Linked DNA regions of Homo sapiens. Each later gene encodes a partner of the first gene's protein in a complex. Each region holds a gene or a part of one and is shown in the gene's direction. Other genes may lie near its edges.

What was found. Proteins that work in one complex are often made in the same cells at the same time.
Region 2: the proteins of ARHGEF12 (region 1) and PLXNB1 are in contact, whole or in part, in an NMR structure (PDB 2OS6), measured with the Homo sapiens proteins. Residues at the interface, in NP_056128.1 of Homo sapiens: Phe82, Gly83, Leu84, Thr85, Val86, Ser87, Gly88, Asp89, His127, Val131, Lys135; in NP_001123554.1 of Homo sapiens: Glu2129, Lys2131, Val2132, Thr2133, Asp2134, Leu2135.

What each region holds. Positions count from the first base shown.
Region 1 is NC_000011.10:120,331,261-120,339,985, forward strand, and holds the start of ARHGEF12 (rho guanine nucleotide exchange factor 12), read left to right. Parts: upstream 1-5,152; 5' UTR 5,153-5,983; coding exon 5,984-6,015; exon of another isoform or gene 6,016-6,609; intron 6,610-8,725. UniProt on the Homo sapiens protein: May play a role in the regulation of RhoA GTPase by guanine nucleotide-binding alpha-12 (GNA12) and alpha-13 (GNA13). Acts as guanine nucleotide exchange factor (GEF) for RhoA GTPase and may act as GTPase-activating protein (GAP) for GNA12 and GNA13.
Region 2 is NC_000003.12:48,406,077-48,413,674, reverse strand, and holds part of PLXNB1 (plexin-B1 precursor), read left to right. Parts: coding exon 1-5; intron 6-137; coding exon of another isoform or gene 138-288; exon of another isoform or gene 289-505; coding exon 506-606; intron 607-715; coding exon 716-933; intron 934-1,054; coding exon 1,055-1,233; intron 1,234-1,370; coding exon 1,371-1,437; intron 1,438-1,665; coding exon 1,666-1,812; intron 1,813-2,638; coding exon 2,639-2,807; intron 2,808-3,116; coding exon 3,117-3,220; intron 3,221-3,291; coding exon of another isoform or gene 3,292-3,294; coding exon 3,295-3,379; intron 3,380-3,597; coding exon 3,598-3,770; intron 3,771-3,943; coding exon 3,944-4,104; intron 4,105-4,198; coding exon 4,199-4,346; intron 4,347-6,583; coding exon 6,584-6,648; intron 6,649-6,776; coding exon 6,777-6,852; intron 6,853-6,934; exon of another isoform or gene 6,935-7,107; intron 7,108-7,598. UniProt on the Homo sapiens protein: Receptor for SEMA4D. Plays a role in GABAergic synapse development. Mediates SEMA4A- and SEMA4D-dependent inhibitory synapse development. Plays a role in RHOA activation and subsequent changes of the actin cytoskeleton.

The sequences.
Region 1 (8,725 bases):
TAGGGTAAAGCAAGCACAAGTTTCCAGAGTCCTCTCCCAATGGAATCACACAGGATGCACTTAATTCCCCTAGCAGTGATTTGTTACGACATGTGAATGAGTTGTCTACTGGACAAGGTCACTACAGACTCAGTGCCCAAAGTTTTTACTGAGGACAGGTCATCTAGGCAGGCTTTCCCTGGCAGATAGCAAAATTCAAGACTCTCAAAAGGAAAGCAGGTGTTCAGCATAAGCCATATTGTTTGCACAAGCAGTTCAGACACAGTAAGCCAGTCTTATCAGTTAATTGTGGGAGCCCCTCCAAAATCTAAGTTCCCAAATGCCGGCCAGTGGCCAACCCTGTAATCAGGCCTCTCCAAGGATAGCAGTTTAGGCCTGCTATGTTAACTCTTTTCTGCACAAAACCTATAGAGTTAGGGCTTTGGATCTGAGATGAATGAAGTGTGGGTAGATTTACTGAGTCCTGTTATATGGGTTCTGCCCTACCAGGAAAACTATGCCAGTTCTCAGGGCTTTTGTGCATTAATCTCCTAGGCATTTGAGGCTATGACTAAATTCCATAGGGATTTATCATGTGGATTCCACTGTGCTTGAGATGGCAGTTTAGATTTCAGCTCTGCTGTACATATTGCAAACTAGAGCCAAAGACTTTAAAGTGTGTACTGGCCTCAGGGGGATGAGGTTAATTTTTTTTTTTCATTTTAGATACTTTCCCTTTTAGTACTCCTCCTACTTTTCTTATTTTTACTAAAAAGGTACCACTCTATGAACAAACTAATAAAACAAGGCCAGTCTTGGAAGGAAAAAAATAATAATTCTTAGTGTGACAGTCTCCAAGAGAAGCAAGAATATAAGCTTAGAACAAGGGGTTAAGAATCCAGAATTCCTGGGTTCTTTTAACTAATTTTGCTACTCACTTGCCACTTTGGAGAGCTACTCACTCACTTTGGATAGGTTACTTGTTTCTTCTTTGCCTGAGTTTAAACCTATTGTGAATGAATGAAATACCCTGTAGTATATTTCATAAATACATTATGTGGCATTTTATTAATGGAGGTCTTTAATGTAGGGCTTTTATGGAAATATGAAGTATTTATGTATTTATTGATTATTTATTTTTACCATGTTATTGAAGTCAATGGTGTTTGATTAGCTCAGTGGGTGAGCAAGCATATGGTGCTACTGGAGTCAAGGCTGGTCAGTAGGAAGCATCAGTCCATTCCATGGCCACTGGTAATCTAACGTAATGAATGGTGTCTTTTGTTGTTGTTGTTGTTGTTGTTGTTGTTTGAGACAGAGTCTTGCTCTGTCGCCCAGGCTGGAGTGCAGTGGTGTGATCTCAACTCACTGCAACCTCCGCCTTCTGTGTTCAAGTGATTCTCCTGCCTCAGCCTCCCGAGTAGCTGGGACTACAGGCGTGTGCCACCATGCCTGGCTACTTTTTGTATTTTTAGTAGAGACGGGGTTTCACCATGTTGGCCAGGCTGGTCTTGAACTCCTGACTTCATGACCCACCCGCCTCGGCCTCCCAAAGTGCTGGGATTACAGGTGTGAGCCACCGTGCCCAGCCATGAGCGGTCTTGAAAATGAAAAATGGTCTTGGCCACAGAAACCAGGTATGAGGGAGTGGTTGGAATGGTATAAAGTCATCACTGTTAGGGAAACAGTAACTTTAAATGCATGTTAACAGTGGGTCTTTAAAAATGAATGTCATTTGGTTAAAGAGTTTTGCTGGGCATTGAGATAATCTGACAGCATCTCCACTTCCTGTTTTTTTTCTTAATCTCCACTTTTTTTTTTTCTATGATGAGCGCCCCTAAAATGCTGGTAAGCTTCTTTCCAACAAAATTGCGGTCAAAGTAGGATGCTGGGGAATGCTGATTTTAGCAAAAGCTTGTAGAAAAGAGTGGCCTGGCACATGAGCTTAAAAAAAAGAAAAAAAGCTGGCTCTTGAATTTTGGCACAGTGCAACCTGTTCCATACCAGACAAATGAACAGGCTTAATCTGGTACCAATTCTTTTTCTCTCTTACTCCTCAGAAGTGAAGGGACTGCAGATCTTGTTGTTTTGGGGACACTTTCATGGAACTGTATGTAGGTTTTTTTGAATGGTGAGAAATCTGAATAATTGGTAAGGGGAAGGGAATCCCTCATTTCAGCTTTTCTTGATGTTGTTACTAATAACTATGAAAAAACTTCTGAGAGAACAATGTGAACTGAAGATGACTCAGCAGTTAAGACAATGCTAAGTTCTGAAACCACAGGTAAATGAAGGGCTAATTAATGTGTGGTATACTTGGACAAAATGAAGTACTCATTTGCACTGGATTACTGTGTAATGATAACGAACACTGTTCAAGAACGATTTATATTTCCATAAGATTTGTACTAAATTTTATAAAAGTAAAACAACTTTTTATAAACCCAGAGTCTGTCTTTATATTTATGTGGTGGTTTTGCCAAGAAGTTAAAAAAAGCCTTTTGACCTGTAGAAATGTTGACCTGTATTCATACTTACTAGTGAATATCTCTAATCTGCTGTTCATTATCCATCATTCCCCCTATTTTTTTTTATTTTGGGGGGTAACAGTTGACATACACAAAACAGTTTGCCAAAAGAGAGAGGAAGAACCTTAATGTGTTTCTTGTTCTGCCACCTGTTTGGACACTTGTCTTGAAAATGTTGATGTCAAGTGAGTTGACATCAGAGACATCATCTGAAGACAGCTGGAGGCCCTGTCTTGAGGACTGTACTACCAATGCCTAAAACAGTCTGGGATGCATAGTAGATACTTAGTAAGCATGTTGAAAGAATGGACAAGAGGATGAGAATGTGGTTTAGAATCATCCCCATTGGAAAACCTCCTCAAAGGTTTTCCCAGTGGATTGGGTCATCAATGTCATTTTTCTAAGTAAAGTACTACGGACCCTGAGGAGTGTGTTCTACCCAGACTGGCTTGACTTTCTGAAGGCATCCTATAGTTACAGCCTTTAGAACAGTTGAGCTATCGGCAGCTTTAAAGAGGCTTTCAGTTTTTTTTTTTTTTAAATCATTAATGCTTTGTAGGTGACTATAGAGATTTTCATCATTTAAAAAAATTAGTTCTGGAATGAATAACCACTGGCTTAATTCAATCTTTTGCTTACCATCTTCTGAAGCTTTCCCACAGCAAAATGCCTTCTTTGCTCACAGCTAGAACCGTGGGTCTGTTTAAGTTTGGAAAGATCTTGAAAGCAGCTTGCCAAGAGGTTTTGTATGCAAGGAAGAGAAGGTGAATTAGGAAACTTTCCCAGTTTGTTTTATTCCTGAAGCTTAAGTATTGAGGCTTCCCTCAAGTATTAAGGGAAGAGAGGAACTCCAAAATGCATGATTTGATGAGTCATTGGGTTCAATTAATTTTATACTTACACTGTAACATTATTAGGATAGGGGAAAATAAGATATTTAGTACTTTTAAGAAAGATTTATTAAGTTTGGGGATAAGGTTTGCATTTTGGTCAGTATATATATGTATATATGTGTGTATATATATGTGTATATATATGTATATATATGTGTATATATGTATATATGTGTGTATATGTGTATATGTGTGTGTGTGTGTATATATATATATATATATATATATATATATATATATATGAATGGGATTCCTTCCGGTTGCATGTAAACACTCAATTTAAGAGTCTTCAGGGTAGAATTGTCATGCTAGAATACACCAGCAGGTGGCAATGTGTCCTGGTCTCATCATTAGGGAAGTGCCTTGGCTAATCTGCTTCTATTCTTTCCAAAAATAAACATTACAAAATTAGTTGGCTGTGCCTTGAACCTAAAAAATCGAGCAATAAAGAGTCGTCTCTGGTCTCTGTTTATCTTTTCCTTTTTTTCCCCCCCGTTCTAACTAACGTCAGCGTGAGCTCATGCCTCTATTCGGGGATAATGATCCTTTCATGAACTGTTGCGGAATGACTTTTTGCAACAGCATTGTTAAGAGGTAATTGTTTCCTCTCTCCACATCCACTGTTTATTAGATTTGATTTGCTACTTGGATTCCACAAAATGGCTGAAATCCCTTGTCACCAACATAGGTTTAAGCTCAAAAGTCTGAAAATAGTTGGATAAAGGGAATAGCCACTTTGGATGTTTGCAGGCAGAACTGAAGAACTGTATTACATGTGGTACCTAAATTGCCAAAATACTGAATTATTCAATCATAAAACTAGATGGGTATCTAAAGCTCTCTACCCAGTAGGGGAAAAAACCGAAAAACCGTTTGGGAATCCTTCAGAGAGAACCGTAATGCTATTTACTGGATAAATATACTTCATTTTCTTCTCCCAGTTCTTTCCACAACACGCTTGTTAAGTCGCCATGGAAAGCACCATGCTTTATCAATTTGGCAAATAACACATTTCATTTTGCCAAGGCAGAAACAGCCTAAAAGTAATATTTATACCGAGAAACCCTGGCTGCAGTCCCCAGCTGCTCTCCCGCAGCCCTGCGCCTCCGGCTCATGCAGCGCTCTCCCCCCGGAGCCGGCAGGTGCCCAGGTGAGCGGGGCCTGCGGAGGCAGCGAGGGGCGCCGGCCGGGAACCGGCAGAACGCGTGCAGCCAGAAGACAGGAGAGATAATACATTCCCTTAAGTAATAAAAGTTTCCAGGACAAGGGGGGCTGGTAATTTTCAAAGAGCCTCCCGGCACGATGTCCTCGGGATCTGGGGGGCGCTCTCGGGCGGTCTCTGGTGAAAGTCGACTTAGTACAAACTGGACTCGAAGGGGCATGTCTCGGCACTCAGGGGCCCAGGCGCCGCGGGAGGTGGGTGGGCCTCCCGGGGCTGCACGGGTCCCACCTCCCTCTGCCCCGTAGGACTACTTTGCCGCTCTCCCAAACCGGGCTCCGGCGGAGGCGTCCGTTCAAGGGCGAGAGCGCGGCCCTGAGCGGCGGAGGGATCCCGGGTGAGGCGGCTTCCCGAAGTCAGAGGGGAGGGGGCCATAAAGTCGGCGGGGGACGGGAAGCGCGAGCTCGCGCCGGACGCGGCCAGGGCCGGGAAACCAGAACCGGAACCGGAACCCGCGCGCGCGCCCGCGGTTGCGCGGCCCCCACGGCCGCCGGCCTCCTCCGCTGTCTGCGCGCGCGCCCGCGAGGGCCTCCAGAACCCGGCGAGCCGGCCCTGCGCCGGGAGACGCCGCCGCCTCCGCCTCCCGGACCAGGGCTTCCAGGCCGGGCCGGACGGGCATCTCCCGCCCCTCGCGGGGAGCGTCGGGGAGGAGCCGCCGCCTCTGGCGATTGCGGAAGAGTCCGGGCCTCAAAGGGATGGGGAGCAGTCCGCGGCGCTGAGAGACCCGGGTCCCTGTCACCTCGGGCCGCGGGACCTCTCCGCCGGCGCCAGCGGCTCGTCCCAGCACCGGGAGCCTGGTGAGGGCGGCGAGCACAGAAGGAGCCCCGGGCCCGGGACATGGAATCGCGCGAGCCCGGCGCGGGACGGCCGGAGACGCGGCCAACGCTGCGGCCACGAGCAGCCGGCAGCCCCAGATAGAGAGCCGGGAGGGAGGGCCCCGGCCCTTGCCGCGGCGGGGAGTTCGAGGCCCCGAGACTCCGGAGGAGGAGCCGACACCCGTCCGTGAGCTGATCCCGCCCCAGCCCCGGCGGGAGTCCCGGGTCCCCTTCCCACTGCGCGCGGATTTCCCTCTCTGAGGAAGTTTATCCTTGTGCCTTCTGGAGGATTTCTCTCTAGCTCGACTCACTCTGGACTGACTCGCTCCCTGGCTTTCTCAGTTCGTTTTGGGAGATAACTTGTTTTGCTCCAAGCCGCATCCGTTGACCCCTTACAGTCGGATGGTCTAGATGACTGAATGGAGTTTTGAGTTGGACTTTTGTGTCCCTGACGGAGTTGGGCCTGATCCCAGAGCACTGGGGGTGGGGAGGAGGTGTTACTGTAAAATGCAAGTTGGATAAAAGGAGGACCTCTCGCCAAGGGCCCCAATGAGTGGCACACAGTCTACTATCACCGACAGGTTGGTATGAATTCCTCCTTCGTTCGGCCTCCCGGAATCGGGCCCGACCTAGCAGGGGAGTCGGTGATTGCAGATTGCCTTTGGCCAGCGAAGTTGACAGGCAGAGGAAAGAGGGTTGTTTCGGAGCTGTGCAGTTAGCCTGGGGTTGCTGCCGAGTTATCCAGTTGATTGGCTTTTGGAAATGTAATTTTTCCGGAGAGAAACTTCCCTTCCGATTCTCAGAGAAGGGGGAGGCAAAACCATGATTGTGGTTTTCCGCCTGTAGTGTGCATTAGGATTGTGTACTCGTCTGGAAATCAGAGGAGAAGGTCATTTTAGGTGAAGGTCGGTGCCTGAAGTCGGCTCGGTATTGGTGTATTATTTATCAGCTTTAGCCGTGTCCTGCAGTAGATTCTCAAGACAATTACATTTTAGGAATTTCTACCTGTGAACTTAATGTTGAGCCTACTGCATGGTGATCTGGGAACTTGATCTCTTTCAGATGTTGACCTGCACGGTGTTTAATTATTATCTAATAACTTTCCAGAATGTTGACATTACCAGTAAATCACAGGTTCTTGCTGGAAGCAATGTCCAGGAGCTGAAGAAATGAGGGTAAATCATGGGGTTTGCTTTTAATTCTTGTATTTAAATATTTCGTCTTCCAGAAACACTTGGCGTTTAAGAGATATAAGCCGTAAGCATAGTGTAAGCGCGCAGCTGAATTTGTTGAGTTCTGTGTCTGTCCTTTATAGCACCTACCAGTGTTGCATGGTGGTGGGTGGCGAATTGAGCTAGACCATGTGTGGTTGAAGTGCAGTTTGCTTATCCTAAGTTACTCTTGTTTATAGGGTAAGGGATAAAAAGCATATTGATTCCTTGACCACATTTCATTCTCAATTTAATTATGACACTGCATGCTAGTCCCAAATTTGTCAGCTTGCTTTATTTTTAAGTCAGTCTTCGAATTATTACACCGTGAAAAAATAGATCAAGTAACTGAATTAGAGGGCCAAAGCTCTTTGATGAAAAGTGCAACAATAGTGCTTCTGCACAAAGTAGTCTTAATTTCCTAATAAGAGTTTTACCCAATTGTAAGACTCATTTGTTGATTTTAAAAGGGCCAAATTCCATTATCATACCATAACAGCTACTCCAGAAACAGAACTTCCTCTTCCTGTTGATGCTTTCCAGCATCACATGAATGTTCACTTAAAAGAGTCTGTTAAATATTTAAAGTATTTATATTTACTCTTTGTGTATTTTTCAAAGTGGGTTTTCATTTTCAATGAAATAATTTTTAACTTTTCCAAGAATACACTTAAGATAAGTATTGACAATGCTTATCTTACTTTCTTCTGGTTATCCCCATTTTTTTCCTTTCAGGGTGTTTTGCTTCTGAGAAATCACTTTTACGGGTGTGGGGATAATTGTTTTCCTGCTTCATTCAATTCTCGCTCTTTCTGTTGAGCCTGTAAACAAAAGTCTTGCTAGGAACTAATGTAATGTTGGTTTTCATTGCGATGCTGAGGTGTTTAATTTATGGAAACAGAACGGACTCATTCCACACACAAGTGAGTGAAAAGCCCTCAAGTAATGGTTTTTCTTCAGCATTGCTTCTCAGGGATTTTCCTTGTCTTCTCGTTATCTTGGAAATAGAATCTTGGAATTTGTATCCTCTTTATAACGTAGATGGCATATAAACATTCAATAAATATGAAATTACTGAAAGCCTGTTTCTTTTCTTTTTCTTTTTTTTTTTTTTTTTTGGCCAGGCACTGTGCAGGCACAAGAGATTACAAAATGAATATTGTAAGATTAATCTGCAAATTGGTTTGGGCATTAATGTTTTTTGAACTGGTTCAGGTGCTGCTGCCTAATTTTACATTTTTTTTTTTTAAAGAAAAGACCTTGGAAAGCCAATTAATAAGCACTGCTGAGACCTGTTTCGTAGGATTTTTTTTTACTAGGGTCTTTTTTTATTAAGAATTATTCTTATTTGACCACATTTAAATATATTTTGTAAATATAAAGCATCCATTTGCTGTTAAGAGAGTAGTTGTTCCTAATATGAATATATGTTGGGGTGAAATCTGGAGGTACTGGTTTAGTATTATTTCTCTGCCAAGGTGTCTTAACAAAGTTACGAGTATATAATAGTTTCTAGCTTTCTGTCAGCCCTACCTCATCCTTTTTTCGTAGTGTCTAACTCTTACTGTAGGTATATTTTGCTGACTCTAGAACTGTTGGAAAATTAACAGCACCAGTGTAGCTTTTTAGATAGAGATCCTTTCAAGTTTGAAGTGCTGTATGTGGTATGGCTTTGTTTCGTAGAGTGTGCAGAACCACCAGGCCAGCTGTGTGAGTTAGAGTTCTTTCATTGTGGTGCTTCTGACTACAGAGTCTGTCTGTCCTCAGTTGAAATCAGACTAGCTGGTTTTGGGCGTTGTTCTGTTTTGCAGTTTGTGGCAGGCGACACATGGCTGAACAAGATAAGGGTTTTATTCTTGTGTTAGGGACGTGCTGGGGCTGGGATGGAATTCAGCTATGTTTAGGCTCTGATTGGTCACTTTGGATACTCAGAACTCTGTTACATCCTGTTATTATTTTGCAGTTAAATCAACACATTAACTTGCTCTCTTCTCTTTCCCTTCATCTTTTACTCCCCAGTCCGCACCCCTTAAAACCTAAAACTCAAACTTTTTAAAAGACTTTAAACTCAAACTATGTT
Region 2 (7,598 bases), on another chromosome or scaffold:
TACAGGTGGGTGCAGCCAGATGTGGCTGGGCTGGGGCAGGTCGTGGGATCTGGCTGGACTGGGAAGGGACAGACCGGGCCAGGAGTCAGGAAACATTCTCTGTAAATGGCCAGAGAGTAAATATTTTCGCTTTGCAGGCCAAGTGGTCTCTGTTCAACAACTCAGCTTTGCCACTGTGGCACAAAGGCAGCCAGGGACGACATGGAAACACATGAAAGTGGCTGTGTTCTAACAAATCTTTATAAAAATAGGTTGTGGGATGGATTTGGCCTGGTTGTGGTTGGCTGATCTCTAGGCTAAACTGTGCTGGGCTAGACGGGGCATGGGTGTGTGTGACTTGCTTGGGACGGGACAGGCTGAATCGTACTGGGCTAGGCTTGAGCTTGGCTGGCATGGCTGCATTGGACTGTGCTGGATGAGGCCGGGGTGTGCCTGGGGATTGTCAGGCAGGCCTGGGCGAGTAGGACTCATCTGGCCATCCTCTCCTGACCCTGGGGCTGAGCAGGAGGAAGAGCAAGCAGGCCCTGAGGGACTATAAGAAGGTTCAGATCCAGCTGGAGAATCTGGAGAGCAGTGTGCGGGACCGCTGCAAGAAGGAATTCACAGGTGTGGCTGAGAGAATGGGCCCCGCCCTCCAGAACTCTGCCCAAACCCACTCCCATCACACGGGATTGGTGCTTAACAGGTGCTTAACCTGGCCTCTTCTGCTTAACAGACCTCATGACTGAGATGACCGATCTCACCAGTGACCTCCTGGGCAGCGGCATCCCCTTCCTCGACTACAAGGTGTATGCGGAGAGGATCTTCTTCCCTGGGCACCGCGAGTCGCCCTTGCACCGGGACCTGGGTGTGCCTGAGAGCAGACGGCCCACTGTGGAGCAAGGGCTGGGGCAGCTCTCTAACCTGCTCAACAGCAAGCTCTTCCTCACCAAGGTACCCCCAGCTGCATCTTCCTGGCCTGCCCCTGGCCCTGCCCCTTCTCCAGGGCATGGTTTCTGAGCCCGCCCCTCTGTCCCCCTAAACCCCTTTTCCCATCCCTTCTCTTTGGCTGCAGTTCATCCACACGCTGGAGAGCCAGCGCACCTTTTCAGCTCGGGACCGTGCCTACGTGGCATCTCTGCTCACCGTGGCACTGCATGGGAAGCTTGAGTATTTCACTGACATCCTCCGCACTCTGCTCAGTGACCTGGTTGCCCAGTATGTGGCCAAGAACCCCAAGCTGATGCTGCGCAGGTCTGTGTGGCTGTTGGGGCTGGGTGGGCCCTGGACAGCTGGAGCTGGGGTGGGGCCTCGGGCTGGGGGGTCTGCAGGATAGAGAGGCCCGCAGCCCCACCTGCTGACCCTGGCACTCCCCTTTCCCATCATCTCAGGACAGAGACTGTGGTGGAGAAGCTGCTCACCAACTGGATGTCCATCTGTCTGTATACCTTCGTGAGGGTGAGGGGGCAGAGGTGGACAGGGCTCCTGTCCAGGGAGGGTCAGGCCCTCCAAACTTCTAAGCCCTCAGCCACCATGCAGCTCGGACACTTGTGCCAGAGCAGAGACTCCTGCTCAGCCTGTCCTCAGTCCCCTTAAGCCCATGTCCTGTCCCCTTCCCCAGTGTGCGTCATGTCCCATACACCTCTGCCACCTGCTGGGGGGCCCTAACTGCCTGTGCTCTCCTAGGACTCCGTAGGGGAGCCTCTGTACATGCTCTTTCGAGGGATTAAGCACCAAGTGGATAAGGGGCCAGTGGACAGTGTGACAGGCAAGGCCAAATACACCTTGAACGACAACCGCCTGCTCAGAGAGGATGTGGAGTACCGTCCCCTGGTGAGGGTGTGCAAGTGTGTGGCCTGCAGTCTGAGTGCGGTGAGGGCGAGGGTGGAGAGTGTGTGGGTGTGTGGGGTCTGGACACCAGCTTCTGATGTGGTACCTGGATGTAGAGCTGGGTTGACCTCTGGCTGGCTCCTGGAGAGAGCCCATCAGACTAGCTTAGCAGGATAGCAGTTTAGGGCAGACTTTGATGATAAGGCCTCTATGTGCCCCAGGCTAGGGATGGAACTAGGGTAGCCACAACCAGGGTTTGGGAGAAGCCAGCCCTACCTTAGACCATGGGCTTGAGCTGTGTCAGGGCCTGACCCTGTCTGCCTGGCCCTCCTACCAGGAATGCGGCCTTGCCCACCAAGCCAGCCTCACTCTGGCAGGCACTTCTCTCTGGGTTTGCTTTCCCCTTAGTTACGCACAAGGGTTCCTGTGGGAAACCCCCATTCAGGCCTGCTGAACCCCTCCCCTGTCGGATAGGTGGGAATATTTGCTCCCGATGGTGGGAATGCAGGCTTCCCGAAACTCCGTCAGCCTGACCCATTCAGCCAGGAACCTGGGGATCTGAGTGATGAGGGACTTGTGCTCACTCATTTTTTTCTGCCATTTACCCCATAGTGGTTTACAAGTGCACTGCGCTAGGTGCTGGGGTCACAATGGGGAGGAAGCTGCTGTCCCTGGGGAAGGCAGGCAGGTGAAGAGACGAGAATTAGGGATTGTGTGGTGCGTGGGGATTGGAGGCAGCAGTTTCTCATGAGTTGTCTCTGCCCTTGGCCTGTGTCTTGGTCATCCTGAGTGCACATGAACCCTGATGGCTCCTGTGTGTCCTGCACAGACCTTGAATGCACTATTGGCTGTGGGGCCTGGGGCAGGAGAGGCCCAGGGCGTGCCCGTGAAGGTCCTAGACTGTGACACCATCTCCCAGGCAAAGGAGAAGATGCTGGACCAGCTTTATAAAGGAGTGCCTCTCACCCAGCGGCCAGACCCTCGCACCCTTGATGTTGGTGAGGGCGTGGAGAGCCCCTGGGGACCTGAGCCACTGTTGGGCCTGGGCTGGCCCCGGACCAACTCTGCAGGGACAACTCATCACTCAGGGTGGGGAGGATGCTGGGAGGCAGGCAGAAGCTGGCTTTGGAACATCTTTCTTGGACAGCCTCTCATCTGGGGAGGGGGTCCCTGCTCTTGGTCTTTGGAGAGGTTGAGTAAGGCTGCCCCATGATGGAGGGGCTGGTGTCCCTGTGGAGGAGGAGATGGGCTCCACTATGGGAAGGGTATCTTCCAGCCCTGCACCCAGTTCTGCCTTGCCCTTGCAGAGTGGCGGTCTGGGGTGGCCGGGCACCTCATTCTTTCTGACGAGGATGTCACTTCTGAGGTCCAGGGTCTGTGGAGGCGCCTGAACACACTGCAGCATTACAAGGTAGGAGGAGTGGGAGCTGGAGGAGGGCATGGTGGGGTGGGACTGGTGGAGGGATCACCAGCTGTGCTCAGCAGGTCCCAGATGGAGCAACTGTGGCCCTCGTCCCCTGCCTCACCAAGCATGTGCTCCGGGAAAACCAGGATTATGTCCCTGGAGAGCGTGAGTACCGCTCCCATCACGGTCCTCTGCCCCTGCTGTGCCCAGCCCGGAGTCATGGGGAAGGTCCTCTGGGCCTCAGGGCAGGCTTGTGCCTATTTCCATTCGGCCCAGGAAATCCCTCAACCAGGTGCCCCCACCCCTGGGAGAGCTGGCAAGAAACAGGGGGCCTGGGGAGGTGGCACCTGGGGAGGGGTGACAGCTGTGGGCTCTTGGCACAGGGACCCCAATGCTGGAGGATGTAGATGAGGGGGGCATCCGGCCCTGGCACCTGGTGAAGCCAAGTGATGAGCCGGAGCCGCCCAGGCCTCGGAGGGGCAGCCTTCGGGGCGGGGAGCGTGAGCGCGCCAAGGCCATCCCTGAGATCTACCTGACCCGCCTGCTGTCCATGAAGGTGGGGTGGGGCTGCCAAGGTAGTGGGGCCTGGGCTGAGAGGGAGCATGGCCACTCGTGGGATTTGGGGGTGGTGTGGGGCTCGTGCAGGCACAGTGCCGGGGGGTGTCTGAGGCTGGGCTGCTGCTGAGGGCCCTTTGCTGACCACACCTCTCTGCTTCTTCCTTCCCACAGGGCACCCTGCAGAAGTTCGTGGATGACCTGTTCCAGGTGATTCTCAGCACCAGCCGCCCCGTGCCGCTCGCTGTGAAGTACTTCTTTGACCTGCTGGATGAGCAGGCCCAGCAGCATGGCATCTCCGACCAGGACACCATCCACATCTGGAAGACCAACAGGTGGGGTGGAGCTGGGTGGGCTCTAGGTGTGTGTGGGGGGTCTTCTCTTCTGCCTCCCCAGCACATTCATCGGCCATGCCTGCCCCACCCGCAGCTTGCCTCTGAGGTTCTGGATCAATATAATAAAAAACCCGCAGTTTGTGTTCGACGTGCAAACATCTGATAACATGGATGCGGTGCTCCTTGTCATTGCACAGACCTTCATGGACGCCTGCACCCTGGCCGACCACAAGCTGGGCCGGGTGAGCGAGTCTGGGATGGACACGGGGGGATGGGTGAGGGTGGACAGTGCTGTGTGTGCACTCAGATTCCAGGCTTTTCTGAGAACTTCAAGGAGGGCTTAGGGGAGACCTCTGACCTCCCAAGCCAAGGCTTCATCCCGGGGCCACCTCAGTTTTAAGGGATGAGCAAGAGGAGGGGACACTGTGTGCCAATTCACAGGTGAAGTTGTGTGCAGCAAGTACAGCCTGGTGTGGCTGGGGCATAGAATGCTGGCCAGGCGTGGCAGTAGGCCAGGGCCAGTTGGTCAGGACTCACTCCTGGGGCAGTGGGAGCCACAGAAGGTCTGGGAACAGGGAAGTTATGTGACCAGACCTGAGAGTTTGGTGGAACATTGTGGCTGCTGTGCATGGATGAGCTGAGTGAGGGAGTCCCAAGAGGGCGCTGTGCTGTCCTGACAAGCAGTGGCTGGGTTCAAGCCGGGTGGGAGGGTGCAGGGCAGGCAAAAGCTGAAGGTTGGATGTGGGGGATGAGGAAGAAGGAGGGGAGTCACACATGATCCCTGGGCCTCTGGCTGTGGTAAGCTTAGACTTGGAGAAGGTGAGTCTGGTGTTTGTGGGGTTTCCAGATAGAGACATGGATTGTTCAATCCCAGAGCAGCTCTGGGCTGCTGATTGGGTTTAATTCCTTAGGGTGGTGGAGGTGTCTGCCTGCCAGTAGGGAAGTAGGGAAGAGAGTTCATGGAGTGTCACAGTTTGAGGGATGTGTGAGGAGGGGAGCTGGGAAGCACAGGAGACTGAGTAGTTGGAGCCGTCCGGGAGCACAGAGGTTGGGAGTCTATTGTCATAGCAGTCAAAGCCGAGAGTCCCCTGACATATGAGGTCCCCAAGGTGTCTGCTCAAGCACCCAGTGGGCAGGGCCCTCGTGTGACTCTGCAGGTCCATGAGTGGGGCTCTGCTTAGCCTAGACCCCCAGGTCTCAGTTGGCTTGGGACTTCTTGAGAGATACATCCCTACACCTCTGGGAAAAATCAAAATTAGCTTGGCACGGTGGCTCACACCTAGAATCCCAGCACTTTGGGAGGCTGAGGTGGGCAGATCGCCTGAGGAGCTCAGGAGTTTGAGACCAGCCTGGGCAACATGGCAAAACCCTGTCTCTACAAAAAATACAAAAATTAGCCAGGAGTGGTGGTGTGTGCCTGTGGTCCCAGCTACTAGGGAGGCTGAGGTGGGAGGATGGCTTGAGCCTGGGAGGTTGAAGCTGCAGTGAGCCATGACTACTCTGTTCACTGCACTTCAGCCTGGGTAACAGAGCGAGACCCTGTCTGAAAACAAAAACAAAAACGGAAAGTTCTGTCCAAAATTGTAGCACTGTCTTTTGGGAGCCATTTTTGTTCCACATGCTGTCATCATGCCTATAATGAGCTAAGAATCAAAGGGCCACACCAGGACCCGCAGGGCCACCTCCAGGGTAGACCCTATGTGGTGGCTGGGATTTTTGCCAGATCCTTCCAGTACCTCCCCTTCCCAGCAGAACAGCAAATGGTTCCTGGGTAGCTCAGGAGTAGTCCGAACAAAGAATGCCAAGGGTTCCCCCATGGGGAGTTGTCAAGAAGGCGCGAATCCTGACTCAGGTTGACAGAGGAGCTGGCCTTGGATCCCTGCTCATGGGGGACAGTGCCACCTCGAGATATTCTCACCTTCCCAGCAGCTCTAGGATGAGGAGAGGTCCTGAGAATAGAAGTATGCTGCCCAGAGCCCATGGCTGCTGGGACTTGAACCCAGTTCAGTTGTAGACGCTGTGTCTAGGTGTGTTAAAGTGGTGGAAACTGGACAGACCTGCTTCAAATCCTAGCTCAGCCACTGGGGAGAGAGGTGGTCTGTGGCCGCTTAGGTAATGTTCTGGGTCTGTTTGCTCATTTTTAAAATGATGACCCTGGGAGTGAACAGCATGCGTCCTGCCCTACGTACCGGGCTCTTGCTGGATCTAGATGGTGGCATGTGGAGCTGAGAAATGATTTCCGATGACATCAGAGACTGGACATTGGTGGAAGGGAGGGAGCAGCAGAGGCTCCTGCGGAAGGAAGTAGGCGAGGGTGACCACCTGTCCTGGTTTTCCGGGACTCAGGGGCTTCCTGGGATGTGAGACTTTTCCTTTTCAAAACTGAAGCAGTACTGGGAAACCCAGGACACTTGATCACTCGAACAGGGACCCTCATCCTTCCTTCCTTCCTCTTTTGCTGTCCTCCTGCTATGTCCAGGACTCCCCGATCAACAAACTTCTGTATGCACGGGACATTCCCCGGTACAAGCGGATGGTGGAAAGGTACTGGAGGGCACGGTGGGTAGAGGTTGGAGGGCGTGTGCAGCTGAGGCTTGGGGGGTGGGCTCTGGTTGGGAGCAGGGGAGTGGGCTTGTTTACCCAGCAGCTGCTGTGCCCTGGCTCTCTGGCAGGTACTATGCAGACATCAGACAGACTGTCCCAGCCAGCGACCAAGAGATGAACTCTGTCCTGGCTGAACTGTCCTGGGTAAGGCCTCCCTCTGCTTCTTGGGTTGGGCATAGGCCTCCTGCCACAACGGTCCTTCCCCCTTCACACTGCCCCTTTGCAGGGAAGCCCTTGGGAACCTCAGCAGCCCTGTGAGCTGGTTGGGGCAGGAAACATAAATGCAGAATGTTCCAACTGCCACTGAAAGACCAGGGCTCCCACCATCTCATCACAGAGCAAGCAGGGGTCTTGTCCTGGCAGCTGCCATGTACCCTGATTCAGCCAGGCTCTTGCAAGGTAGCTGGGATTCAGCCCCAGGCCTGCCTGGGTCTGCCTGCATGCGTCTTCCCACTGCTGTGCTTCCCTTGGTGGCACAGGTGTCCCCTTCACCTCTCCCATTCCTGAAACCGCCCTAAAATGTAACTCCAGGGAGTTTATGAACAATGTTTCTGAAATGTTGATGATGACAACCACAACACTAATAGCAGATATAATTTTGGGGTGTTGTGTGTGAAGCCCTTCATGGGGTGCTTTGATTGTCTTATTTGATCCTCACAAGAACTCCACAAGCTAGGTGACACCAATTCCATCGTCCAGGTGAGGAAGTTGAGGCTCAGAGATGTCCCCATGGAGGGGCCTGAGAGTGACCTCAGGAAATACTTGAGTTAGGCCAGAGCAGAATCATGCTGGGCTGTCAGCCTGCAAGTGGCATCTGTGCCACTTGGCTCTGGAGTCATCTGGGTGGCAGAGGGTCTGGGCTAGAACCTCAAGGGGGTGAGAGAGGCAGG